Regions from separate parts of the Homo sapiens genome. Here all the other regions are linked to region 2. Evidence: fine-mapped expression QTL. A gene starts in region 2. Each other region holds a variant in brackets. All regions are shown on one strand. Distances are between the middles of the regions. Region 1 has its middle 120 kb from the start of MINAR1. Region 2 holds the start of MINAR1 (membrane integral NOTCH2 associated receptor 1). Region 3 overlaps ANKRD34C-AS1 (ANKRD34C antisense RNA 1). Region 4 overlaps MINAR1 (membrane integral NOTCH2 associated receptor 1).

The links. PIP is the estimated chance that this variant, and not a neighbour inherited with it, causes the effect.
Region 1: its variant is the best candidate, but not a certain one, in a credible set for the expression of MINAR1 in adrenal gland (GTEx, PIP 0.74).
Region 3: its variant is the best candidate, but not a certain one, in a credible set for the expression of MINAR1 in tibial artery (GTEx, PIP 0.54).
Region 4: its variant is the best candidate, but not a certain one, in a credible set for the expression of MINAR1 in pancreas (GTEx, PIP 0.71).

What each region holds. Positions count from the first base shown.
Region 1 is chr15:79,544,826-79,553,293 of GRCh38, reverse strand. No RefSeq gene overlaps it. Among named protein-coding and RNA genes, the nearest start is that of MINAR1, 120 kb to the right of the region's middle. The variant C/T (reference allele first, on the strand shown) is at 4,058.
Region 2 is chr15:79,428,131-79,436,598 of GRCh38, reverse strand. It overlaps MINAR1 (membrane integral NOTCH2 associated receptor 1), which reads right to left and starts at 4,263. Exons shown (of 4, transcript NM_015206.3): 1 at 4,059-4,263.
Region 3 is chr15:79,229,929-79,238,396 of GRCh38, reverse strand. The region is part of intron 1 of ANKRD34C-AS1 (ANKRD34C antisense RNA 1); the gene reads left to right. It also overlaps the pseudogene HNRNPCP3. Among named protein-coding and RNA genes, the nearest start is that of MIR184, 24 kb to the right of the region's middle. The variant G/A (reference allele first, on the strand shown) is at 4,307.
Region 4 is chr15:79,463,632-79,467,631 of GRCh38, reverse strand. All of the region lies in intron 3 of MINAR1 (membrane integral NOTCH2 associated receptor 1), which reads right to left. It overlaps LOC105370918 (a long non-coding RNA gene), which reads left to right. Exons shown (of 4, transcript XR_007064729.1): 3 at 575-2,867; 4 at 3,393-3,794. Among named protein-coding and RNA genes, the nearest start is that of MINAR1, 33 kb to the right of the region's middle. RefSeq lists an enhancer at 2,602-3,801. The variant ATTAG/G (reference allele first, on the strand shown) is at 2,193.

The DNA.
Region 1 (8,468 bases), 120 kb before region 2:
GTAACACTACTATTACCACTACTTTTACAACAACAGCCGTGACCACATTCTGCCTCTCAAGATTTAGTGAGCCCTTATCCATTATTTACCAGACACTGTGCTGTGAGCTTTACCAGGCATTTACTTTCATTTAATTTTTACAACAATCTTATACAAAGTTGTTATATTTTACAGATGGGAAACATAAGAAAGTAGGGCACAGAGAAGTGAACTAAATGTTCCAAAGTTGCAGAGCTGTGTGTGTTGAAATGGAGCTGCAAACCCAGGTTCACCTGACCTGAGATATAGGGCTTGTAGTCCCTGCATTCTACTGCCTTCTTCTTTTTTTCCCCTTCTCATTCCATTATTTCTCGTTTCCATTTTTTGCTGGTATTATTTCATTTCTTCTATTTTCTCCAGATGGGATTTGTTTTCAGTTCATTCTCACTTCTTGCTTTCATTGCCTCACTCTCTTGCTCTCGTGTTTTACACACAGTAGCGTGTAGGATGTTATTTTTAGTTTCTATATATTTGAGTTTTTTTCTCTTTAACATATATTATGAATGTTTAGTTCATTGCATTTTGATCTGAAAATATTAGCTGTAAAAATTCTGCCATAAGGTACTCACCAGTGTTTTCTTTATGATTTAGCATATGATGATTTTTTGCTTACAGACCGACTACATATACTTTAAAAGAAAAAGTAATCCATATTTTTGCATTACAAGATTTGAAATAAGTCTAGTAGATGTACTGTTTTTATTGTGTCATCTATTTTTTTCTAGCTCCTCATTTCTAAATACTTGGGTCTGTAATAGCCTGATAACAGTAAATTATATTCTTATACCCAAGCATGTTTTTGTTTGATTTCTTATGTATTTTTACAGTTTTTGCTTTATACACTTGCAAATCTTATGTAAAGTTTTTACTTTTAAGCACTATGCTGTCCAGAATTAATCCTGCTGTTCTTTGATTTGAATTCAGCTGGCATATTTGGGTCCAATAATTCATTTCTAAACTTTTATTACCCTTCTGCCACTGAAGCAGAAGCAGATCTTATGGACAACTTAACACTAACTTTTAAAAATTATAATCTTTACATAGCTTGGGACAGGCCACTTATATCCATTTTCATAACCACCATGCTGTCACTTCACTTTATGTCTTCTTGTCCTCTGTCGTCTCTTTTGATTTTTGATGTATAGTTCAATAAATGACTATGTTTTACTTTGTTTTCTGTCTAAAGATTTTTTTTTTTTTTTTTTTGAGACTGAGTCTCGTTCTGTCTCCCAGGCTGGAGTGCAGTGGTGCGATCTTGGCTCACTTCAACCTCCACCTCCCGCGTTCAAGTGATTCTCCTGCCTCAACCTCCTGAGTAGCTGGGACTACAGGTATGTGCCACCACGCCCAGCTAATTTTTGTATTTTTATTAGAGACAGAGTTTTACCATGTTGACCAGGATGGTCTTGATCTCCTGACCTCGTAATCTGCCCGCCTCGGCCTCCCAAAGTGCTGGGATTACAGGTGTGAGCCACTGCGCCCGGCCTAAAGACGTATTTTTAAGAGGTTACTCTCTAATTTTAAAATAAAAATATTTATGATCAATTTATGAGACACTCCACTAACATTCTTAAAGCTATAATCCTCATTTTTAAACTTTCCAGACAAAGACAACTTTTAACCCTCCTTCATAACTGCTGAGAGATATTAGAGGTTTTGCTACTTTTCCTTCTTCCTTCTTTCCCCTCCCATTCTTCATTGATACAATTTGAGTTTTGATCCCACTTTATCTTTTCCCATCCTTTTTAGTTCTGGTTATTTGTAGCTTGTTTTTGAGCCACAGCTTTAGTTAATAAAATCAATTCTCAACAGTTAATTCTATTTTCTCCTGTTCTATTATTACCTTATCCTTGACATTCTTCTTGACATTGATGACTTTTTAAAGTGAGCAGATGGTCACATAGGCATCCCCAGGTGTTTTTCCATTTCCAATTTCCCGCTTTCCTCTTTATTTTTGAGAGTGTTCACCACAGAGTGGGTTCCTGTGAGGTTTATCACTTAAGGGTGGATGGTTGTAAAGTGAAATACTGTAGACCTCACTAAGAAGTAACTCACTAAGAAGCACTCTCGGAGAACATCCTAATTCTTAAAGTATTGTAAAAGCATCACTCCATTTTCTTCTATCATTGCTTTTACATTTGGTAGAGAAAAATTGAAGAAAGAAATGATGACTTCTATTCAGCACTGTTACCGACTGGATCATGTCGCCTTAAAATTCACAGGCTGAATCCCTAACCCCCAGTGTAACTGTATTTGGGGATAGGGCCTTAAAGATGTAATAGAGGTGCAGTGAGGTCCTAAGAGTGGGCCCTAATCCAGCATGACTGCTGTCCATATAAGAAGAAGAAGAGACGCCAGGAGTGTGTGTGGACTGAGAAAGACCCACAGCAAGAAGGGCACTGTCTATTAAGCCAGGAAGAGAGGCTCACCAGAAACCACCCTGCTGTCACCTTGATCTTGGCCTTCCAACCTCCAGAACCAGGAGAAAATAAATTTCTGTTGCTTAAGCCACCCAGTAAGTGATATTTTGCCATGGCAGCCCTAGAAAACGAATTCAAGCACTTACTCTGTGCCAAGAGCTGTACAAAATGTTTAATCCCTGACAACAACCCTATGTGGTATTTTTACTGTAGTGTCGTGAATGAGGAAATTGAACCTTGAAGTGGCTTGCTCAGGTCAACAGCTTGTAATTGATGAAGCTAGAATTGAAACCAAAATCTTTCTGATTCCAAATCACGTGCTTTTCCTTCTGTCACTGCCTCCTAGTAAATTCAGATTCTAGTTCCTTTAAGTGGAATCTGGTCTTGCTTCTTTGCAGAGTGTGAAACGTTATTTCAGTTGTTCACGCTGTTCCTCACATCAGTTGGCATCAATCCTGGAAATCCACTCACTCTGAGCATCCACAGAGCATGAACCCCACCCCCGTGCCTCTGTGTAGATGTTTTCTTTCCCTCCTCTAGGTCTAGTTGCTGCTAGCTTTCTTCAGATCACAATTTTTGCTCCATCTGTGCGATGGAGTCATTCCTGATTCCCATTATTCTATATTATACTCATAACACTTTGTGTTCCCTTTCTTCCTTCTCCTTCCTTCCTCCCTTCCTTTCACAAGTGGATAATTGTGTGTTCATTTATGTAATTATTTTAATACTGTCTCCCCCACTGATCTGTAAACTCCATGGGAATATGGACTCTGTTTTCCTGATCACTGGGAACACACAGCCTGACCTGCAGCAGGCATGCATAGACATCTGTAGAATACAGCAGCAAAGGAACAAATGACTCTAGGAGCCTCCTTCTCCCAACCAGCCTTATTTGGAAGATATGCCTCAATCTCACTGCAGGAAGTGCCCTCCTGAATTACCCAGAGACAGATCTCCAAGTGTTGCACCTAGAAGGTGGAGGACAAGTACCAAACCTGGAGTCCTGGGCCTCAACTTGAGACATAGCACTCTCTCTTCCCAGATGGGTGAGAAACTTAAATTCTCTGGCCCTCAGTCTTTCCATGTAGAAAAGAAATGAGTTGGACCAGGTGTTCCCCATGGTTCTAGAGGTCCACACATTCTGTGATTCTGTGCCATCATTGGGCACAGCCCCTCCTGTTACAATGGGGGATTAGGAATTCTAAGAGGACTCATCCCATCTTCAGATAATTACGGAACACAGATGGTAGACTGGGACCTCTGGGTTCCTCAGAGCACATGGGGCCACTGGAGCAGTAGCTGGGCTTCATTGAGTCAGAAGTCCAGGGAAGGAGGATCCTGAAGCCTGGGTCAAATCTGTAGGCAAGAGCAGGATGGTGCAACCCACCCTTTGATGTTTATTGGGCAACAGGCTTTCTTTTCTTCATCATCACCTCCCCTGTCCAGGCCAAGTGTGTCCCTGGGCTTCAAAGACTATCCTGCTGTGACTCAGCACGCCTGCCACCTTGAAGCATTGGCAAGAGCATGGAGACAGAGGTGTGGCTCCTGCAAAATTATGTTGCTCAGGAAGGGAAGCTTCGTAAATTCTGAAATCTCTG[C/T]CAACATGGGATAATTAGGTCATACAATGGCTAATGAATTTCATGCAGATAATTGCAATTTAAGGCACATTGAAAAAACAATTTAAAGTCCTGATACACATCAATGGCTTCTGATTCCTTGGGAATGGTCTCGAGATGAAGAGGTCTGCTCTGTGCTTTAATACAAAAGGTATTTTATGTCTCAGAGCAAGGGGGTGCCGGGTGGGGTCCTTTAAGGCATCTGCTTGCCAAGAATGAGTCCACATCCTCCTCTTCCCCTTGCTTTTGCCAAATGCACAAACAAGGTCGTTGGTTGATAATGAGCAAGAGATAATTCACTGGAATGAAGGCTCCACAAATCAATAAGACATATGTTCTAATGCAGTATACACTTAACTTCAGGGACCAGCTTTAAAATACAGCTTGCTAGTTTGTAAAGCCAAAGCTAGTCTTAAAGGGAACAGGAGCCCAGGTCTTAGAGCCTGTAGAGCAATAATTTGAAACCCTTTATAGACCACAACAGACAAAAAGAGGAATGTGAAGACCCTAGGATCCCTGTTTCTAAAATCAGGGCTAACTCTTTGGAAATGCGACAATGTGTTATGGGGGTCCCAGGGCCAAGTCACACTTTCCACCAGAATGGAACTTATCTGAGTAAGTCCTGACTTACCTCTTAGCTACTTAACCGGTCACTGAATATCTAGTAGAAGCGATGCACAGAGCAGACCGGTAAGAGGATTTAAGCTACAGGTCTGTATTGTTTGACCTGTGCAGGGAAACTTCAAGTGAGAATCCCATTTTCTATCTTTTTTTTTTTTAGATGGAGTTTCACTCTTGTCACCCAGGCTGGAGTGCAATGGCATGATCTCAGCTCATTGTAACCTCCGTGTCCCAGGTTCAAATGATTCTCCTGCCTCAGAGTCCTGATTAGCTGGGATTACAGGCGCACGCCACCACACGCAGCTACTTTTGTATTTTTAGTAGAGACAGGGTTTCACCATGTTGGCCAGGCTGGTCTCTGACTCCTGACCTCAGGTAATCCGCCTGCCTTGGCTTCCCAAAGTGCTGGGATTACAGGCATGAGCTACCACGCCCAGCTGAGAATCACATTTTCTAGATTCTTTTGAACAATCAGAGGGTCTAGCCACAATTGGCCTGTGTTCTTACATGCCAGTAATCATGAGGGCCTAAGGAGCTGCTCTCTTTAGATGGGCAGGTGATCTCCTGATCTCTGCATCCCACGACTCTAGGTTGTCTTCTTTCATTGAGGCCGCCTCCTTGGTCCCAGCAGGCATTTGGATTTGAGTTCTCTAGTCTACCTGTGCAGGTACTGAGCTGGAAGTGAGATCTAAAGATGAAATCTGATGAAGTATGTTGGATACAAATAATCTCTTCATTTACACAACAATCTGTAAGCATCTATTCTGTGCCAGGCTGTGTGCCGGTGCTGAGAATATGAAGATGGAAAGTCCTCACTGAGTGTTCTTAAGAGCTTACCATCTCTAGGGGGAGATAGACATGTACACAGATGGACTGAAATACAAAGTGATTGCTACAGTTACCCAGAGAACATGGATATGAAATGGTTAAACTTTAGTGTCCTGACCACTCTAGTCTGAAGAATGGTTAATGGTGTTCTATAGGTAGGCCTTGGGCTGAGCAATTGGGAATCAATGTTAGTGCTGACCGTAAGCAAGAAATGACTTTTCCTATTAAGGGGCTGAAAGAGCCTTCTCATTGGTTTAGCAGGCTATTAAAACAGCTGCAAAAGGTTGCCTGGCCACAGAGAATGCGTGCTGCAGCATTATGTAGCTGTTTTAGGACTTTATAAAGAAAGATGCGAGATACTGTTTGCATTTGGAGCAAAGCGTGAATACAGACTAAGGCTTAAATATCATGCTTCTTTATGCTTTTAAAACTCTTTTGAGCTGTTATAAGAGATAGTCCTTTTAATGTTACTATGCTATGTGATAGCCAATGGTGAGGGAATGGAAGTCTCTCTAGAAGAGACTGAGGAAAGGCCGGGAACCAGGGTTTTTGAGAAGTCTGCCCCTATTTATTTTTAGTAAATATCAAGAGGTAGCCTAAGCCTAGTTAGAGTTAAACCTGTCTTTGGATAAAGAAGTCTTATTACTGAAATACTGGATTTTTAATATACTAGTTCATTATTTGGTATTCTGTATACCCCTTCAAGCAGTTGTTTCCCACTCACAACAAACTATACAATTCTGGATGCTAAAACTTAGGGATATTCTCTTTGCATAAATTTTGGCTCCATTCTGTCCATAACAATCTAATTGACCAAAACTGGGAGTTCTCAAGTGAATGCAAAAGGAGCAGGCCATAACTTTATTTGTTATAGAGACCATCAGAAACTTGAGATCTTTTGGCCTATGATAATACCATTTATTTTTTGCATTGCTTCACAGTTTGCCATGTGTTTTTACATCATCTCATTTGATCTCAAACAGCTTGACAGAGCAACTGCTATTGAAATATTACACATGGGAAGAATGAGCCTCAGGGAAGTTAAATGACTTGACCAAGATCTGCTCATAGTCGCGAGTATTTTTTTTCAGAGCTTGTAATGTCTCATATTTAGTCCTTTGCTATCCATGTTGATTTGCTTTTGTCTGTTTCCTCATTATTGAAGTATATACTTTAAATATATACCTTAAGATATCAAAATATCATAGAGAAACATTTGAACTATAATCAGGAAATATGTTTAAAGATATATATTGCCATACGAAACTTAACATTTAAAACCGATAATATCTGTAATGACATCAGAATGAAAGAAAAAAAGTTGTACAGTGTATATTCCTTTGTTTTGAATCCAAATCTTTTTCATAGGTAATGGCAGATGCCTTAATGTGAAGCTTATTTATAATAGTAGTAAACCTAACTGGATTTAGGTGAAGAAGTCTTAATACTGGAAAAAAAAAAATCAGAGTTCTAGGGCAAAAATCAGAAGCACGAGTGCAGGTGAGATCGCATGGGAGGAGAACACTGCGGGGCTCACAAGAGAATCAGACTGGCCCGGCCTAGGGATGTCTCCAGCTAAGCTGACTCTGGGCTCCCACCATAACCAAGTCAGACTGAGCATTTGATCCCTGTTTGTATACCATGGGAATAGCAGCATAATGCTACAGCTCATGCTCTCTAACAGACCATCCTTAGCAGCTTTCTTCCTGTTTTAATATCTATGCTATGCCTATTTTTTTGTAGGATGTTCACACATTTTGTTGTCTTTTTCATTAAGTTCTGACTGTAAAACATGACCCAAATGGTGTTGTAAACAGATGGCTTGCCTGAACATATGCTTAGAATTAAGATTGTGGTACCTGGTGGAAAAAGAAAGCAAGAGTTAAGGCTCACCATTGCAAGATACTATCATGTTGCCATTTGCTTCCATTTGTATCTGGGCAGGTTACATGGTGTGCCACAATGGAACTAGGGGTGAAGTGTGTGAGAGCCCAGAGGAAGGAATATCTGAATTTTCCTGGGAGAGTCAGGGTGGGTCTCACCAAGGAAGGAACCCTGGGGCCAACACTTGAAGGAGAAAAAAACCTGTGGGATAGATAAATGCTACTGGGACAGGTGAAGGAGGGGGGTAGTCTTTGAATTTGGCCTTGAAGGGTGTAAACACTTTGACCAAGCAAAAATGAGGAGGAAAGGACATCCCAGTGGGGAGGAAAAGCATGCAAAAATTGGAGTAGGCGCAAAATAGTGGAGGTTTACAGGAAATCAGCACTAAGGCCCTGAATAGCAGATTAATGCCAGGCCAGTGCCACGGAAAATCGGAAGGTGTTCATTGATGAGTATGGTGCTATGAAATGAGTGGTTTGATGAACAGAACTCTGTCTTAGAAACATATGCCCATCAGTGGAGTTCAAGGTGAGTTTATGGAGGAGAAACTGGCAACAGTGATCTTTAGCTACCTCCTTCCTCTCTGAGGTTCAGCTCTGTAATTCGAGAAACACAGGATTTTGGTGGCAGGGTCATTGTCAAGATTGTCAAAAATGTGTATAATGCACACTGCAGGGTGCCCAGCACCTGGCATATAGTAGCTGCTCAGCAAACAGCCTCTCCCTCTCCTCTCTGTTCCCATGAGCCACGTGTCAAACTGGATCCTGGCTGTCCCAGCTCCCAGGTTATGCAGGGCTACAGGCAAGCTTCATTTTAGCTGCTAAAAGGTAGTGATGGGCTGAGGTGCCAATAATGTTTTTTTTTTATGCTAAAGACTACACATGTAAGAATGATCCTTCTTGCATTCTGACACCTTGATGACATCTCATTTATTTATAGCTTTAGCTAATTAACAGTTACCAAATGTCAGCATGCATACAACTAAAATATTCTATTATTTCAGTGTCTCTTTTCAGATTACTATGCTGTGTGGATAATTTTTCATTTGCAGGCAAGATAA
Region 2 (8,468 bases):
CAACTCCCCTGGCTTTCATTCTTGGCTCACAAAGCACCTTCTGTTTATTATCCGGCTTTTAATGGACAATTCTGTCCAATCACTGAACACATTTATCAGCTTCACTTGCTTCTCTCTAAACTATGAAATCAGCATATTATAGCCAGTGCATCAGACTTTCGGTTTTCATGTTCCTTCTCTAAAAGACTAACCTGAGTATATTACCAAATAAGCTCTCCAACCAGGCAAAATGACAGCCGCATGCCACGATGTGGTGCTCATACACAGGTCCTGATCCCCATGAAGCCCTGTCTCAGCAAGGACTGGCCTTCCTGGATAACACTGCTATCCTGATCAGCAGCCAGTATGATCCTAAGTTCTTTACATGTTGCATCAGTCACGTATGCTAGGTTACACTGCAGCAACAAATAATCCCCAGATTTCAGTTTGTTTATTATCAATGCTACATGTCCATTATGCGTCAGCAAGAAGCTCTGCTCCACATCATCCTCAATCCCAGACCCAGGCTGAGGGAGGAGCAGCCACTTTCTGGAGACTTAACTACCACTGAAACAGAGGAAAAGGGAGAACATGGTGAGGCACCTGCTGACTCTTAAAGGTTCATGTACTTTCTGGCCAAACAAGTCACATGGCCATACCTGATTTCAAATTAACAGGAAAATGCAATCTTACCATGTGCCCAGAAGCAGAGACAGCCAGAATCTTTAAGAACAAAATTAATAGCCACCATATATATGCTTCTATCCCCTCTTGGGGCAATCCATTCCCAGTATTAACTTTAATTATTTTAAAGGACTTCCTACAATAAGCCAAAATCTGTCTGTGCCAGGCACTAGAGATATAGCAACAAATAAATCAAAGTCCCTGCTCTCCTAAGATTTCCACCATAGTGTATCATCCACCAGTCTTTGGTCTGCCAGAATAACTTTACTCCCTCTTCATTTCTTAATCCATTCAATAAGCATTCACTAAGCACCTACTTACATGCCAGGCACTGTGTGAGACTCAGAAGGTCCAGGGCTGAAAAAGTTATGGTCCTCCCAGAGCTGACATTGTAGGGGTTTAGCTAGCCATCCAGGAGGATCAGTTACAGGTACATGACTATTTATAACACTGAGCTAGGTGACCACAACATTTCATTGGAAACATTCAGAGAGGGAATATGCCATATTGCAGAGAGAAGCTTCCAGTGATTCTCAAACTGAATTCTGAAAAGCCTGTAGGGGTTCCAAAGGGTTCTTCAGACACCACACTGAGAGTGAACTGGCTGCTATGTCCCTCCCTTGCTCTTAATCTGTTTTGCGTATTTTTTTTTTTTTTTTGAGACGGATTTTTGTTCTTGTTGCCCAGGCTGGAGTGCAATGGCATGATCTCGGCTCACCGCAACCTCTGCCTCCCAGGTTCAAGCGATTCTCCTACCTCAGCCTCCCGAGTAGCTGGGATTACAGGCATGCACCGCCATGCCTGGCTAATTTTTTGTATTTTTAGTAAAGACAGGGTTTCTCCATGTTGGTCAGGCTGGTCTTGAACTCCCGACCTCAGGTGATCCACCCGCTTCGGCCTCCTAAAGTGCTGGGATTACAGGCATGGGCCACAGCTCCCGGCCACTTACCTTTTATAAAAGATTTAATTTAAAGGGTTCTACTCTTCGAGAGAGAAGGGGAAAAAGAGGGGAAACAAATCCATGATCTAGTCTGATACTCTCTCATTTTACACATGTGAAAACAAGCATGCATTAAAGTTACATAATTTACCAAGGTCATATAGTGAGTTTGAAGCATGCCTAGGTAGGAAGCCAACTGTCTCTGCCTGTCTTAAGCTTCATAGCCTTCTTTTCTTTTTTTGAAATTTACACCAAGTCTGCAGAGGAAGCTCCAAAAACAAAGATTTGAATGTCTGTCAGTGGGAAAAGCTAATCAGTGGGATTCAGCAATAGATTCACTGAGGAATCTAGAACCTTTTCCTAGCTAGTTTGAGAATGCATATTACCACCTGGCTGGAGCAGAGAGCAGGGCCTTCCCCTGCCTTCTCCTGGCCTTTAAATCCCTGCCCAGCAGGCACAGAGCCATAACTGCAACAATGGCTTCTGCTGCACGTTTGTCAAGATTTGAGAAAGGGCTCATTTTGGGAATCCTGAGTGAGAAAATTCCCAGATCAGTTCTGTGCGTCTGCTGTGAATAGAGGCAGGAGAGATATTTCAACCTCACAGGAGCACGACTGTTTCAGACAGAGTATCAGAGAGTTCATAAATATGATGGGTTTTAGAAAGTGGAAAGACATCAATTTTGCCTGGAGCATTGGCCAGAAAAAAAATCGCATTATGTATCTAAAATTCAAAAGGAACATAACACCAACAACAAAACCTTTTGTCTGCCTTCCAAATGTTAAGTGCTATACACTTCCTCACCAAACTCATCAGAAATTCAAATAAACTGTTTGATCTATTCTTTCTCTGGCAACTGACATTTATTTTCACATACTCCCTGATCTATGCAAGTCTCTCAGACACACACAATAAAAATCAGACTTTATTTATCAGACATTTAAGGTTTTTCCCTCCAGGCTCCAGTAGCCTGAGAAAATCTCTAAGTTTGCCCTCTCTGCAGACTCACCACCGTCTCCTGCTCTACCCTCCTCTGATACACAAGAGGAAAACCCATTAAAGGGTATTGTACAACTCCAGGCATCCTACTCTCTCTAATCCACTTCTCTTATTTCAACAATACCCAAAATATTGCCGCCGGGCTCTCAATGAGGGTCAATTCAAAAGACATCCTGTGGCCACAGCAGTGAGCTAGCTTCCACCTGCAGGGCGGGCCCAGTAATGCTGGTGTCTGAGAAATGACAAGGAAGGGCCATTTACCGTCCCTCTCCATCAGAGAGAGGTAGCAGTGGCAGCTCGTTTGCTGGAATAAAGGATGCATAACTGGCCACATAAGCTGCTTCCACACTCCTCCTAGCAACTCTTCATGCCATGCATAATATCACAGAGCATAAAATTGCAGAGCCCAGCAATGAGGCCTCCAACCACAGCCTCAGGGATGGCGGCATGGTTCTACCACCTCCCAACCACATGGCTCCATCCACAAGAGAAATGGGTGAGAAGCCTTTAAGATAGATGTACATTGTTTATAGCAGAAACTCTGGATTTTTCCTCTCCTTAGATCTTCACCAAACATAACTTAATTCCCGCTGAATTAAGCGCACCTGAACACAACCTTATCTTCCCTGCTGCTTAACACAGGCTACCAGCCGCTTACCACAGTAACAATCTTCCAGCAAAACAATGCTGGAGTGCGCGCTGTGAGAGTTAGGCTACTCAAATGTTACGCTCCCCGCACCGCCGGCGAGGGGACAAATGACTACTCTGATGGATTCGGTAGCCCAAGGAAATTATCGCTTTCGGAGGGATGGCGGCAGAGCAGGTCGGGCATGCTGCATTTGCCTGAGTTGGACCGCGTGTGAGCGAGCTTACGCTCCCCGCGGGCCAGGCCCAGCTCCCGTGCTTTCTGACAGGTGAAGTTGAGCATCCTTATCAAACCCTCGGGAAGAACAACGATCCCATTCCACATCAACGTGACTGGAAATCTCAATTTAAGAATTGGATGCACCGGTCGGTCCACCTGGGGCTTGTCCAGCTTTCCATCTTACTTCGCGCCTCTGATGTGTCAGGCTTTTTGCACAGATAGCTCACATATTTAACCCTCAAAACACCGTTTCCTGAAGCGATGCTCAACCAGGAAAACTTGCCCCAAACTGCATGATCATCTTCCGTGGCTTCTCTTCCCGAATCCCTGCTCTGTCCACCAGGTGCGGCCCCGCCCCGCATCCGCACACACCTTTTCCGCCGCTGCCCTGAGCGCAGCGACAAGGGCCCCCACACCTCCGCGGCCCGCAATGCTCCGGGGCCAAGCCGAGGCAGGGAGGCGCTCCCGCAGCTCCTGACTTTACAACCCGCGCGCGTGTGCACCGAGCCGCGGGCACACCGCGAACACACACACACACACACACACTCGTGCGCTCCCGCCCTCCGCCCGGCCCGGGCTCTCCGAACTTACCTCCGAGGCGCCCCGGGCGCAGGGCCCGCCCTTCTCTGCGGGTCTCCAGCGGCTGTTCGGCAGTGGTCCGCACGGCCTCCGATGCCGCGCCTCCGGTAGGCTCCAGAGTCAGCTGGTCACTGTCACCCGGCAGCCCGGATTCCGCGCCCAGGGTTGCACCCCGCGGATGGAGCGACTTTCGCCTCCGCCGCCCGAGTCCAGGTCTGCGCTCACACGCGCGGCGCTCACACGCGCGGCGCCCACCTGGCTGCAGTCCCGGCCAGGGCCAGCGCGCCGCGGCTGAAGGGGGCGCTCGGACTCCTCTGGGGCGGCGCGCAGCCGGGACAGTCTCGCATGACGCCCGCGCTCCAGCGGCCCCGGGACGCGGCCTCACCCTCAACCCCTGGCGGTCTCAGCCTCGGTCTTTGTGTCTCGGTCGGCGTCGCCACGTCATGGGCTTGCAGGCTGGGAGCAGCGCGGGCCGGGAACGCGGCTGGGGAGAGCTGGGCTGGGCTTCTCCACCGCCGCCCGCCCGGGGCGCTCAAGCTGGCGGGGCGCACGGGCAGCAACTGAGCGCACCCTGGGGGACCGAGGGGGCGGTCCCGGGGAGGGGCGCGGCGTCGCGCCAAGGGGGTGCCCTGCCAGAGGCTGCGGCGGAGGAAAGTGGGAGTCAGAGCGCCGCCGGAGCCCCGGGAAGGCGGTGTCCGTTCGGTCCCAGGTCGCGGCTGCAGCGCCGAGGGGAAAGCGAGCGGAAGCTGCGCGCTGGAGGGAGCCCACCACCCGGAGCCACCCGCGGGGTTCGCGTCTCCCCACTCCCCTATGCTGAAGGTGACTGCGGCCCCCAGTGGCAAGCAGGGGCGAAGAGTGTCCTCGGCTCTCCTCTTCCCAGGGAGCACTCGGGGCTTCGGACTCTGCAGTGGTTTGCAAGGCCAGGGCCAAGTGGTCACTTCACTCACTGATTTCTTCTTTTGGCTGGTGTCGGCTTAATTGGGATCCAGATTGGAAAGACTGTCACGTGACCACCCCTCCCTGTTTCTCTCCCCCCCCACACACACACACATACTCACTCATTCACACACCCCCAAACCCCACGAAACTGGGATGGGTTTCCAAAAGCTTACTGGATACATGGATCAGAAATGGAGGCCTTCCGTGTCACCCTGTGTGCTGGAGTGGAGCCGAAACACAGCAGCTGCCTCTGGTGGCCCCATCTAGACAGATCCTGTCCCTGTGGCTGGGGAAGCTCACGTTAACAGCACTTTGCATCCCCAAGACAAGAACAACACAAACAAAAAGGGTGAGGGAGGGAATCATAGTTTCGGGGCCATGGAATCTCATTTCAAAAGGAAAGCAACACCCCCACCCCCACCACCCCACCTCCTTCCCTGCCACCGAGTTACCGAACAGAGCTGCTAAGGAGCATACCTCCCCAGGGACAGAGCCCTCTCGGGGGCTGTGGCGGCTTTTCCCTGGCCAGCTTCTCCCTGACATTTGCTACCTGTGATCGGAGCAAAGGCCCTGGGGGGACGCAGATCTCAGTCTCAGCCTCCCTCAGCTGTCTGGATGTGGGTGGCAACAACGCTTTAAAAGTGAACTTGCAGCTAGTCCCAAGATTCATTATCTGATTCTATTTTTTGGTGCATGTTCAAATTTTACCTAATAAAAAGTTTTTTAAAAACAAAACAAGCAAACAAAAGTGAACTTGCTAATAAATGGATACTTTAAATAACGCCCTATCAGGGTGATACGTGTTGACAACTAGATTTTCCCAGAGCTCCTCTCTGCCCAAGTTTTTAAAATCCATTTGCCTTTATTACCTTATTGTGAGGCAAGTTCAAACCTATTCTAGTAAGGGCAAACGGATTTGAAAATGTAAAGTAGGAGTGAAGTTTGTTTGATTCACTGTACCTTGCCTAGTGATTTTAAATTTGTAAGTAGTGCTGGCTCTGTCTTTGGGTCCCAATATTGTTTGTGGCAAAAGGGAGCATAAGCTTAAGGAGTAAAGGGGGTCCCCAGGGTAAGAAGCCTGTTTGGTAATAGCTAAAGACTGTTTGGGGGCCTCATTGTCCTTTGAGTTCAGGGGCAGATTATTTGAGACCTGAACAAGTATATATTTCTCCCAAAACCGAGAACAGTTGAATCCACATGGAACAATTAGGACAGGAAGCTGCGTGGGATCTGCCTTTTCTTTTGCTTTGAGTTCTTCTTTCCTGTTTTTTCTCCTGTTTCTTCATGAAATACTACCACAGAGACCACATTCTAGAAGGAAAAACCATAGCTTCCTGAAACTCAGATTCAGTAAAAATCTGCTTTTCCCTCCCTTAGTTCAGCTGAGGTCGGCTAGAGGTTTATTTAATTTCTTTCTGAAATAACCCTTTTGGAAAACAACTTTTAAAATTTGAAACAGCATAAAAGGAAAATGCAGATTAGAGCTTTCTGATCCTACAGTTACTCAGTTCCAGCCAGAGTTGGCTAGTGGTGTTTACAGACACAAAGGATTCAAGTGGTTGCCCTTTTCCCCTCCTGGCTACTGATTTCTGTAAGCCTGCCCCAGAAGCCCTCATTCAAGCCTTGGGAGGTATTCCTCTCACTTGTGGCCACTCACCCCTCCCCAAGTGGACACAGATACAGTAACACCTCAGCCAGGTGCTGTCTCCTCCTATGCCCCCCTCTCTGGGAAGAGGCTGGAACTTGGACTCCCTCTCCCGTTGCACACACGCACAGTGGACATCTTTGTGCACAGCCCATCTTCCCCACCTGGGGAAAAGTGAAGGTTATTTGTCTGCACTACTCACTGCACCAGAGTGATACTAAATTATATTCACCATTTATCTATGGACCCAAGGCATTCAGTTTGCAGGGGCTGGGGGATGACGCGAATTCATGGCACCACCCTCCCAGGATAAGTAGTTTAAAAAAATGTTTTGGTCTGGGCAATAGAAAGAGACTGACGATGAGATGGGAGACTGTGCACCAGATCACGAAGACAAGAATAGAATAAGCATCCAGAAACTATCCAGCCTCCACATTTTCCTCTGTTTCTAGTGGTGTCCCACTCAGATCCGAAATTTCACTTCATAATATCATTGGCAATGGTGTGAAAACCCAATGTGGTGTAAAAGAAACAGCCTTGAGTTTGGAATGTGAAGACATGGTTTTAGACATTTGATAAGTGATATAAACCACCTATGTGAACTTGGACAAATCACTTGACCTGGTTTTGGTCCTCTAGCATTTAAATGGAGGGTTCTACTTAAATTTAATATTTGAACCCAGAAACATGGACGGTTTCCATCTTACAGGATCGGAGGTTGATTATGAAACCTAATAAATTGATGAGGTCCATGTGATCCAGTCTCAATAAGTGTCCTATTCAATGAAACATAGTCCAGCAGCCAAGAGAAATGTATCATTAATCAAATCCTTCATTTGAACTTCTTAGAGACTAACATCCTCCTCTCTCTCTAAGCCCTTCTTATCTCAGCTGCTTTAAAGCTCCTCTTTCTCCAGTGCCCCCCAAATTCTCTCTAAATACATAACACACATCTTTCTTCATCTCTCCTTTCCTACCTCCTCTCTACTTTTCTGCATTGTGTAGAGCTATGCATTTTCTCTCTCCTGTCTTTAGGGGAGGGAAGGGGAAAGGAAAACTGTGGGCAAAATCAGAATTCTCTTTAGTGATAGAGGTAGGGGAGAAGACTGTGACCACTGACACATTAATACTTTTTAATCCATCATAATCAGATCTCCTGTGGTACATTTTAGATGTATTGAACTATTAGAAAAGGGCACTGGATATAGCATCATTATATAAAGATTTTGTCTCCAGCTCACCTACTATCTAGGTAAACTTGAGATAGTTTCTTAACCTCTCTTGAGCTTCAGTTTTATCATCTATAAAAGTGTAATAAGAGATTTCATAGAGTTTTTGGGAAGATGAGATAAATGGAAAGTGGAAGCCTCATAACAGGTATTCCGCAAAAGTTTGTGACTGAAAATGGCAGGCTGAAAGAAAAAACAAAAGGAAGGAAGAAAAGGGAGGGAAGGAGGGAAGGAGGAAGGAGGGAGGGAGGGGGAAGAAAGGAGGGAAAGAGGGAGGGAAGGAGGGAGGGAGGAAAGGGGAAGAAAGGAAGGAAAGAATGAAGGAAGGAGGGAGGGAGGGAGAGAGGGAGAGGAGGGAGGGAAGGGGAAGAAAGAAGAAAAGGAGGCAAGGAGGGATGGGGGAGGTAGAGGAGGGAGGGAGGAAGGAAGGGAGAGAAGAAGGAAGGAGGGAGGGAGGGAGAGAGGGAGAAGAAAGGAAGGAGGGAAGGAGGGAGGGAGAGGAGGGAGGGAGGGGGAATAAAGGAAGGAAAGAAGGGAAGAAGAGAGGGAGGGGAGGGAGGGAGGAAGGAAGGAGGGAGAGAAGGAAGGAAGGAAGGAAGGACTTTCATC
Region 3 (8,468 bases), 200 kb after region 2:
CAGGAAATAAGAATTTTCTTGTTTTCAGTAACATTGAGGTAACACTTCAGAATTCAGAAGGTAACTGTGGCTATAAATAGTAATTAAAAAGACAAAATAGAAGAAAGCAGGGGTTCCATTTTCCAGCTGTTGCAATTTTCCTGAAATCTTAATGTTTTTGAGCCTCTCCTATTTAAAGACAAAACAATTTAGCACACAACAAAAACTTCAAAAAGGGTGCCAGCTGGACCACAAAGCACTGATGAAAAGGCAGAGAGGCTATACTTCCCAAACTTTCATTAGGATGTAAAAGCCATTTTGAAAAACAATCTCCACTCTCTGTCAAGTTATTTGACTCCTCAATGCAACATGCATCTCAATGAAATAGAATTTGAGTAGTGTTATGTTGGTATGCATAATGATTATGACTTCAAGAAAAATATATCTAGTACGTTCTGGGGGTTTTGTGGAGGACTCTGTAAAACAAAGAGTTTGAAGTAAACAATAATAAAATACAAAAATTTAAAAAACAGGGTTTTTTTTTCCTCCAAATTCCTGGTTTAATAAGGACCTGTTTATTTTGAGGAAAAAAAGTTCCCAAACATCAAGCTGTTCACAAAAATAACACACAGTATCAACTTTAGAAAACAAATCTTAAGACTATAACACTCATTATTTTTCTAGAGGATGCATTTGACATGCCAACTCTCATTCACAAAAATACATTGTTACATTTGTGTTGAACTGCCCCACACAGCACACTAATGTGGGGGTGTAACACACATACTTCTAATCAAAGCTGCTTTCAGGAGCTACTCAACTAAATAAGCTTGCCTTTGCAGTCAGGGAAGCAACTACTGAACTTATGTATGAATGAAAAGAACTGTCCTCCCTGCATAACAAGAGATTATTTTGGAGACAGTTGATAAAAACCATACATCCTTTTTATTAAGTCATAAAGAGGTATCAAAATTAAAAGCAAATATTACAAGGTAAGACTTAACAAAACTACTAAGAGTGCCAAAGGAAGTGAAAATGGGACTAGGCGCAGGGCAATATGAATTAATAAACATGGGAAGGACAAGGATGGGAAGGACAGTGAGCATGTGCCAAAGATACTAGGTGAGAGGCTCTGGTGAAAAATTTGATCTTAGACAAGTGCCTAGGTAAAGAAATAATGGAATAAGATTTCTAAACCCCACTATGTGCTTAAGAGTCATCCATGCCATTGGTGCTGTCTCTGTCATCCTCTCCTTCCTCAGCCTCTTTTTCATCATCCTTGATCAACTCCAGCTGGTCATCCCCCCATCCTCATTATCATCATCATCCAGTAGGTCCCCCTTCTCAGCACAGTCATCTGCACGCCCCTCAGACTCCATCTTCACATTAGTCTCATCTTTTTCACGGAGCTGCTGCTCTGCTCCTCTTCTGACTTATCATTCCTCATCTCTACTGCGTGTTTGCTCTGTTCCTTTTCAATTTTTTCCAGGTTTTCCAGGAGAGAATCCACTTTTTGTTTTATCTGGGTCAACTCCTTCATAATGGCCTGAAGGTCATCTCCTCTCAACTTTCCAGACTTGGAAGATCCCTGCTGTCCACTCTTAGAATTGAGGCCACTTTTGCCCCTTCATGAGGTGTTTCCTGATACACGCTGACGTTTTGAGAGCACTACAGCCCAAGCAATAGGAGGAGGAGGAGGCACACGTGCTGAGTAACTGTACATCGTGTCATCATAATCACCTTGATAGTCATAGCCCAAGTGAAAAGAGGAGCTATACATCTCCACTGCAGATCGTTTCACGCCTGCTTTTCCACGGTTCACTTTTGGCTCTGCAGCCAGGTTAATATCTAAAACCTGGCCAGCAATCATTCTATCATCCTCTCCTGCTCCAGCAGCCCGGGCATTTCTCTCACTAAAATATTGAACAAAGGCAAAGCCCTTATGAACAGCACAGCCCATTTTGCCATACTTCGAAAAGATTGCCTCCACATCAGATTTCTTGACCACAAGAGTGTTGAGATTCCCAATGAACACATGGGAGTTCATGGAGCAAGGATTTGTCTTGTTGGTAACGTTGCTGGCCATTGTGTTTGCTGATAAGGTTTCTCACAAAGCTGAAAACAGGAGGGGGAGGGAGAAGAGATTCGATTCTGAGTCTCCTACTCCCGGGTTCTACATGGAGAAGCCAACTGCTGCTCAAGGTCACCAACACGGCCACAACCACTCAGTCTTCGTCTCTTCACAAAAAAATCAATAGTAGGTTTTTTTCCTCACCTGTGTAACATCTTGTCACTCCAGATAAACACCACCATCCCTGAGCTGGACTTGACCCAAGTTCCCTGGTCACATCTCCATGGCTTCCAAGTAGATGACAGCATCCTGGCTGGGCTATCAGGTCCCAGGATGCAATGATATTACAGAAATAGTTCCTGTGGCCCCATAAGTCTACAGGATTGAGGCTGCTTCTCACCTCTGTCTCCTTCCAAATTGGCTCTGGAACAGGGATAGGCTGTAATATATAGATGGGACCCTCAGAACCTCTACCTGAGGGGTTCAGGGGAGCCAGAGGCAGGTAACACCAGGCAGGATCCTCCTTGAATTCATCCTTTATGCCTTTAACAAAGTAACCAAGCACATGCTCTAGCGATAATCAATTTAGGCACATCCCACAGATTCCAGCTTCTCTGCCACCAACCACCAGGCATGATCTAAGCAAGCTCTTTCACCTCTTGGAGCCTTAATTTTCTCATCTACAAAATGGAATAACGCGATCATCCTTGAAGGTGAGTTACATGTGATCATGGGTGTGAGCAGCTCTTTGTAAGCAATGAAGGCCCAAGCAATTGGAAGGGGTGGTGATCATGGAACTGTCAAAGGTACATTTGTTGCTGTGAAAAACTGAAGGTACTGGACCATTTTCTCATCTTTCTACAGGTTGCTGGAATCACAACTTATAATTAATGCACAGTGATATGGCTTGACCCAGTTTCCTAAATTGGAATGTTTCAGCTAAAACTGATGAAAAATTCTTGTCTTCCAAGCAGAACTAGCTAGATGAACCCCCTCCAGAGCTAGTGAGTAAATATATACAGTGAAATATATATATATAAATACATTCACTTATTCAACAAATATTGATTGAATGTCTACTCTGCACCATTTATTAAGCTTGGTGTTTTTCCTGACTTGTCTCATGTAATCTCCACATGAATTCTGTGAGGTAGACATTGTTATCCTGATGTACAACTGAGGAAACTAACAGGGATTCGATTATTGGATCAAAGCCATACACCTAGAAAGTGGCAGACAGACAGTGAAACCCATTTCCTTGACCCAGTGAACCTGCTCTTCTGTGACACCACATGACTTCGGCAGGCCCCTCATAAAAGGGGTGCCAGGGTTATGTCTGGGCAGATGGGATTGTATATTAGTTCACTCTCCCGCTGCTATAAGGACATACCCGAGACTGGGTAATTTATAAAGGAAAGAGATTTAATTGACTCACAGTTCCACAGGGCTGGGGAGGCCTCAGGAAACTTGCAATCACGGTGGAAGGTGAAGAAAACACATTCTTCTTCACATGGTGGCAGCAAGAAGAAGTGCTGGGCAAAAGGGGGGGAAAAAACCCTTATAAAACCATCAGATCTATGAGAACTAACTCACTATCACGAGAACAGGATGGGGGAAAACTGTCCCCATGATTCAATTATTTCCACCTGGTCCCTCCCACAACACATGGGGATTATGGGAATTACAATTCAAGATGAGATTTGGGTAGGGACACAGTTAAACCATATGAGATTGGATGTTTAAGGAGCAAGTCAGGTGGATGACAAATTCTGGCTCATATGTGTCCCCCAGTTCTCCATCAAATATCCAGCCTTCCCTGGGACCCAGCAGCTCATCCTCCCTCTGCTTCAGCCAGCTCCCTGGGTGCCCCCATGGCCCCTGGAATGTATTTACTGCCTTTCACCCTTGCTAGGCTCACCAAGTTCATACCACTGGGTTGCTGCATCGCCCTCAACCTTGGTTCTATCTTGTTCCTCTTCCCACCATCCCAGGCCCCTCTAGGACTGGACTGGCACTGGGGCTTCATCTTCTGAACTGGGCAGCCACGCCTCCCCTGCACCCTGACTCGTTGGCAGTCATTGGGCAGCCCAGGATGAGAGTCAGACAGATTGAGGCTCTTCTGATTGCTCCCTATTTGAATTTGAGAAAATAACTTGATTTTTCAAGCCACAGTTTCCATATCTGAGAGTAGAGAGTAATGGCTGTCTCACAGGGCTGCTGTAGGGATGAAATGAGAAAGATACTAACGTTTTTGAC[G/A]TCTGGGAGTCACTCCCCAAGCGCTCTCTTTCACTTCTCCTACACTTCCAAAGAAGTATGGCAAATGGTAAATTGTGTACTATGTAACCTTTTTTCCCTATGATTTATCATCTTTATTTATCTTTAATTTCGGTGAGCAGAATTAGATTCGGTGAATCTAATTCCTTTTTCAAATTCAATCCTCAGTATTTCAACATGATTTATTAAATTTTCCTTCCATATTGCTTACTGACGTTCAGCTCTTCACACGTTATAGCCACCTTTCATATAATTTGATCTAATTCTGTGTCCTTTTTGTATGATTTATATACAGTTTTCTCTTTATGACTGCACTTCAGCTGTTTTTATCACTATTGCTTTAAAACAGGTTTTTGTGAAAGGCAGATAAATCTTCCCTACCTCTCCTCCCCTAACCCCTGTCAGAATTGTTTCTTATTCTTGGCCATTTATTCTCCCGGGCATACTATTCTGTCAAGTTTCAAGAGAGGTATTGGAGATTTAGATTAGGATTTACTGGGCTACATAGAGGATATAAAGGCTAGCACTTAGTTTCAGGAATTTGTGTCTAAATCCCATGAGCCTTGAAATCTCAAGTGCTTGGCCACACACACACATACACACACACACACACACACACACACACACGCACAGCCGCCTCTGCTGCCTTCTTGCTTTCCCAATACTTCCCCACTGACAAAGTATAGAAAGAAGGCAGTAAAAAATGACAGTCACCTGCCAGGCCTGGCTCCTATTGAAAGTTACTGCGATTAAGCTGGAAATTTGTCTAGATTTAGAGGGGATCCCAAGAGCCTCGGAGTCCAGACTGCTCTGCCCATTCCGCATTACACTGACATTTGACTAATCCCGTGGTTCTCTAACTCGAGTTTGCCAACCAGCAGCATTAACAGCACCTGGGAACTTGTTAGAACTACAACTTATTGGGTACCACTCAGGCCTACTGAATCAGAAATTCTGGGTATACGGCTCAGTAATCTGAGTTTTAACAAGCCTCCAGGTGATTCTGGTGCATGCTCAAATTTGAGAACCACTGGATTAAACAAGCAGAGATTTACTCAAAGGCTACCTCCACCTGGAATTACCGGACCTGGTAGTCTGGTCAGCTGCATAGAAGCAACTTGGAACCGTGCTGCAAATGTACAACAGTGCTGCAAAACCAGACACACGGCAATAGGACCACACGTGACCTATAAATGGATGTGAGGAGAATCAGTATCTTAACACTATTGTTCCCCCTTGCCAGGAGACTGCAATTCTCTATTTATTTTGGTCTCCTTTAGGAATCAAAAGTAGTACGGCTTTCTCTACCTGGGTCACAAACATCCTGCACTGGGTTTATTCCAAAGTAGTTAATACACTTTGTTACTGTGAATGCAATCTCTTTAGCTGTAAATTTCCTAATTGATTATGCCTGGTATTCATCCTGTATCCTGGACATTTGTGGGCAATTAGTCATTTTTCTAACCTCTTTATTTCTTGTCTTTTTTTTTTTTTGAGACAGAGTCTCGCTCTGTTGCCCAGGATGGACTGCAGTGACGTGATCTCAGCTCACTGTCAGCTCCACCTCCCAGGTTCACGCCATTCTCCTGCCTCAGACTCCCGAGTAGCTGGGACTACAGGCACCCACCACCACACCTGGCTATTTTTTTGTATTTTTAGTAGAGACGGGGTTTCACTGTGTTGTACTGTGTTAGCCAGGATGGTCTTGATCTCCTGACCTCGTGATCCGCCCGCCTCGGCCTCCCAAAGTACTGGGATTACAGGCATGAGCCACTGTGCCTGGCCTCTTGTCATTTTTAACAGCCGATTTGTCTGTCTTTTCAGGTTGTCTTTTAGCAGTATTAGTACTTGCTAACTATTTGTGCCTACTATTTACTACATGCATGTCTGCTTCAGGTAATAGCTGGGAAAGCGGATCTTGCTTAACAAAGGATGATGGGGAAGGGCATTTTAGGGGCCAGCTTGTGCTGGAACACATTCCCACCTGTCTACCTACCTGGCCTCAACTCAGCCTTCATGATTCACCTGGCAGGCCTTCTTTCGGCCCACAGTCCCCTGGGAGGATATGTCTCCTAGTGTTTTTTATCATACTCTTAAGGCTGTAAAAATTCACCTTTGTTCTTATCCAAGTTTTAAAATTTGTTTGCAGAGTTATGCGAACTACTCTGTAATCATTCTTTTAATTTAGCTTTAATGGTTTCATTTTTATATTTAACTCTTGGATCCATATGGAATTTATTTGCACATGAAGAATGAGGTAAGAAATCCAATTTTTCCCCCTTCAAATAACTAACCAGTTTTCTCAACACCGTTTATGGAATAACCCATCCTTGCTGATAAATTTAACGATGCCATTTTAATCAAATACTCAATTCCCATATGTGCTTGAATTCATTTTTGGACTCTCTATTTTCTTACACTGGTCTCTTAGTTTATTTCTGCCCTAAAATTATATTGTATTAAATATCTGTAGCTTTAAACAATGTTTTTGTTTTGTCTTTGTTTTTGTATTTTATTGTGTGGGTTATGACAATGTTTTGATACCTGATAGTATCATAGTCATGTTCATTATTCTTATTTTTTAATTTTTTTTCTGATTCCAATTATGTGTTCATTCTACCAGATAAAATTTAGTTTAACTTACCAAATTTCAAACAAAATTCTCTTGGTAATTGGATTGGAAACACACTGAATTTAGAGATTACATTCAGAAATTGAAACTGCTCTATTGAGTACTCTTCTAAAGAAAATCAAGGGAGGTTTTCACTGACTGAATTATTTTTTCTGGCTTTTAATAGGAATTTAAAGTTTTTAGCATAGGGCCCTAACATTGATTATTAGATTTGTCCCTAAATATTTAGTTTGTTTCTATTGTAAAAGGCATCTTTTCTTCTGATATGGTTTGTGTGTTTGTCCCCTCCGAATCTCATGTTGAAATGTAATACCTAAGTGTTGGAGGAGGGTCCTGGTGAGAGGTAATTGTATTATGGGGGCAGATCCTCACGAATGGCTTAGCACCCACCATCCCCTTGGCGATGAGTGAGTGAGTTCTTCCTCTGAGTTCATGCGAGATCCAGCTGTTTAGAAGTGTGTGGCCCCTCCCCTCTCTCTCTCTCTTGCTTCTGCTCTCACCATGTGACACCACTGGCTCCCCTTCACCATCAGCCATGATGTAAGCTCCCTGAGGCCTGCCCAAAAGACAAGCAGATGCTGGTGCCAGGCTTCTTGTACAGCCTGCAGAACTGTGAGACAATTAAACCTCTTTTCTTTATAACTTCCCAGCTTCCGGTATTTCTTTATAGTAATGCAAGAATGGACTAACACATCTTTTGTTAAATTTTCTAACTGGTTACTAATAATGAAGGTTTGATTTTTGATATAAATTTATAACCAGGTGCTTTTTCCTTTCTAAATTTTTTACCTCTTATGTCTTTCTCATGTATGATAATAGGAGTTCTTATTTCTGACTTTAATGGGAATGCTTTTGGCTTTTTACATTAAGTTGTGATTGTTTGGGGTGGAGGATTATAAATTTTTGTAATGCTAAGGAAGTATCTATTTTATTAATTTTTTTAAAAACCTAAAATGAAGATTGAGCAATGGCAAATGAGTTCTTTGGCATCAGATTTTCTAGTATTGAGCCATGCTTACATTCTTGGGCTTTATTTATCTTTGTGTATCTTTCTTTTAGTGTCTTATGCTTTCTCTCTGCTGATATTTTATTTAGGATTTTTGCATTGGTTGTCATAATTGAGATTAATCTGTAAATTCTTCTTTTTTCCCTTCTTTTTTCTATCTTTCATTTGTATCAGAGTTTGGTATAGTGTGGTGTAAGATTCTCCCATCTCTGGCAACAGTTTAAGAAGCACCATAGAGCTTGGTACTGTGGCTCATGCCTGTGATCCCAGTACTTTGGGAGGCTTGATGGGGGTGGATCACTTGAGGTCAGGAGTTCAAGACCAGCCTGGCCAACATGGAGAAAGCCTGTCCCTACTAAAAATACAAAAATTAGCAGGCTGTAAATATGGAGGCTGTGACGTTTAAGATCAAGAAGCTGGCATTGGTTTCTGGTGAGGGCTGCTGTCTGTTTCCAAGATGGCGCCTGTTGCTGTGTCCTCATATGGCAGAAGGCAGAAAGGCAAGG
Region 4 (4,000 bases), 33 kb before region 2:
TGCTCAAAGTCAAGGTCTACCAACCCCATGGCAGACTGTTCCCACCCTAGACCTGCCTTGGCAATAGTTTCAGACTCGGTGCAGCTTCCCCAAAGAGAGAGCCCCCACTGACATTTGTCTGCTGATCTCCCTGAGGTTAATCAACTGTCATCAGGAGAAATACCATATTTAACTTGTATTTTCCGTGAATCCTATTCCACGTTGACAGTTATAATCTATTTCCATGAAGAAAGGCAGTGTTCTCATTTTATGGCAAGCATTTAATAATATGAGTGTCACATAAAAGCAACAGCACATTGCAATTCGAAGTGAGGTCATTTAAGTCTTTGAAATGCAAACAAAATATCCATTTTTAAGATTTTCTTAGATTGTTTAATGCTCATAAACATGGGCACATTAAAAATTATTCATACACATATACAAACACAGGCTCAAAAAACAAACCTTTCAAAGTTTTAAAAAACTCAGTTGTACCATTTATTGATGGAACAGTGATGATTCTAATGCATGCTAGTAATTCTCTGCCTGACCTTCTAGATTCATTCTCTTTTTTCATCTTGCTCTGTGCCCCTAGGAATATAACGTACATGGACACGTCATGGGGGCTCCCCTGCCCTCAAGCTCCCATGGGGGTTCAGCCAATGAAGACAAGAAGAAAGAGAGATTGAGGTATTTATTCCCCCAGCTCCCTCCTGGCTGGGCTGTAGTTTGGCAGTGGCCCAGCTCCTATTGGACACCTGCTCTCAGAGCTGTGGGTCTCAGTGGGTTTCAGAAACAGCCCCTTTCCCTTGGCCCTTCAGATCCAAGGGTGGCAACAGCTTCCTACTGGTGCTGGTCTCTGGGTGCTTCACCAGCTATTGTAAAGAGTCCCCTCCTTAGCTACCCCTTTGAGAATGTCACCTGCCTGCTGCCAGGACACTGACAACCCGCAGGCCCTGCACCCCTCAGGCTTTATTATCTACCTGTTGCTCATAGTTGTCTAGCACAGGGGTAGACACACTATGGCCTGCAGGCCGTATCTGACCTGCCACCTGTCTTTGTACAACCCTTGAACTACGAGTGATTTTTAGTGATTTTTTTCCATTTTTAAATGGTTGAAAAAAAATCAAAAGAATATTTTATGACATATGAAAATTATATGAAATGCAAATCTCAGTGTCCAAAAATAAAGATTTATGGGAACACAGCCACTCCTATTTGTTTCCAAATTGTCTATAGCTGCTTTCACACTACAATGGCAGATTGTACAATGGGAGATTATAAGGCCCACAAGGCCTAAAGGATTTACTATCTGGTCCTTTACAGAGAAAGTTTGCCAGCCCCCGTTCTAGAACATGCTATGCGACACTACAATGGAAAGAGAAGGGGATCTAGGCATCACAGAAAATCTTCCTGGTCCCTTCCCTCGCCGAGGCATAATGTTTAGAGACTGCTGTTTAATTTCTCAAGTTACATGGAAGGGTGGGAGGTGGTCCTGGACACTCAGGGCACCCAAAATAGAAACCAAGACACTCTCAATGTGGGGAAAAGTCCCTATTGTGCAGAGTGCTCTGTCCAACCCTTCAGCCTTTGCAAGAAACTCCTGCATCCTCTGCTAGAGCCCCAGAAGCCTCTTCCCTGAGCTTCCCAGAGCAGTTCCACTGCTGCTGAACCCTGACTGTTGGACCGCCTCTTCCTCCTGCTTGAGCCACCAAAGCTCTGCTTGCCACAGGCCCTTGGGGCCAGTCTGCTCTCCTTGGCATGAAAACATGAACACCCTTCAGCAGTTTAATAGGCACTAAAGGGCATATTTTGCTGGAAGACTGGTCTGCAGAAGTGGCTGAGGCACCCCTAAAGGCTGGGTGCTGGTGGGGGTCAGACCAGCAGCCCTCCCTACCCTGGCACCTGGAAGTCAGGCTCAGCACACTATGGGTAGAACAACCTGCTCTTCTTCTCAGTCATCCTAGGGCTGGCCCAGAAGCCAAACAGTGTCTAAATGACACATCAGATTTTGTACTTTATTCCCTCCGGCTCAGACAGAAGGAAATTGGCTTTCTTTCATAGCTATATACACTATTACGGGCTGGGATTCAGTGTGTGAAATAAACTATTTTTAATTAGTTTTTTCAATAACTGTAAGCTGTAATCGCACCAAGTAGAAAAGAGGTAATACTGAGGTTTCAAGGGACACAGGTGAGTGTATGCAGTTATTA[ATTAG/G]CCCTGGCAAACACTGGAAAGAAGAACGGGGTCTGCACCTTTGCCTACGCCCTCAAGTGGGCACCACTGATGGTGAATGTATATCTCAACACAAAGGAACTCCGGGAAGATTGTCCAGACACCAACACTGCCCTAAGACTGTACTCGAGTCTGCAAAGAGATGAAAAGAAAAAAGGTTGTGCTTACTGCCTTCACCAAGCTCTCAAGGTTGGCTCTTTTTTGCTGTAAACACCCTCACACGGCTATTGAACTCTCTACTTCCTCATATTTTATGCAACTGGATACTCTCTCCTTTGGATTTTTAAGTAATGTCACCTAAAGCTCTGTAACCCCAATATCTATTTTTAATTTTTATAATTTTATCTTTATGCTTATAAACACTGGTGCAGTAAAAGCTCACATATCTGTAGGGGGTAAATCTTCCAGCTCCCTCCCTGCAAACTTTGCAAAGATGTTTCTCAGCCTATGGCTCACTTAATTAATCTAACTCTTTCAAGGTCATCCAGTGATACTGATGAAATATTCCACCGGAGGGAGAATCATGAAATATTCCACCGGAGGGAGAATCAAATCCCTGTCTAGCCTCCTTGCCCGCAGGAAGTTGACAGAAGAGGGATTGACCTGAAGGATCAAGGGGTATGCAGTCCAAGTGGGAATGTAACATGCATGAGGTAAGGGGGTGAGGAAGGGCTTAGGGTTGCTACTGATGCCCCCACAACCCTCACTGTCAGGGTCTGGACAGAGCTGCCCCTTCCCATAATTGCTGTCATTTAAGGCCCAAGATAAAGAAATGTCATTGCAATCATTTTCTTTTGTAACATAAAACTCCACTAAACCCTTAACAAGAGAAAAATGAAATGGCAAGAAAATTGCAGAAGAGAAAGACCATGAGACTTATTGCCAGATGGTCCAGTATGAATTTAGACTTGTCTGACCTGGGGCAAATTATCGAGCTTCCTGGGGCCTCGATTTCCTCATTTGTAAACTGAAGATGGTCATAGCAATTCCGGCCTCACAGGCCACTGTGCCTGGAACTGAGAGACTGTAAAAAGCACCATGCAAAGTTGATTGATTTCAGCATCATTGACCAGCCCCCAAGGGCCTTCTTTTTCAGTGCCTACTTGATGCCAGGTACTTTAAATATATTAATTCTTACAATGACTCACAAGCTTGATATTATTATGTCCATTTAACAGGTGGAGGGACTGAACCTCAATCAGATGGAGTGAATGCTTCAGGTCACACAGCGAAAGAGTCCTGGATGAAAACCCAGTGCTACCAGAAGGCAGTCTCTTCTCTCCACCACACTGTACCTCCCACAGCCCTCTTTTAGAGCAAGGCCATTTCAGGGAAGCCTTGCCATACCCGATCTCCACAGGCAGCTCTCACCAACTGTGCTTCAAGTGCATGGTCATTCCAGAGCCTGGACGGAACGGGCACTCCTGGTGCTATGGCCTCACTGCCTACAAAGCTAAGTGCACAGGTAGGGGGACAGGGTGCTTCCTTTGCTCCTGTGGTGATCTGGAGACACAGATCAACCCAGTGTGAATGGAACCAGGCAGAGCTGCCCACCAAAATAAAAGTGTGGCCAAAACCCAGCCCTGCTTGTGGGTGAACAAAAAACATGCCCTCCAGCCACAACTGCATTCACAGAGCTTCCGGGGATGGCTCTTACCTGGGGCTGCTCCGTATGGAAACATAATCCATAGCTTGGCTCCCACAAATATGCTTATCCCACGTGCTACATATGGAAGGAGAAATCAGCTTGTATTTCATTAAACAGTTTGGCTCAGGTCTTGTGAGC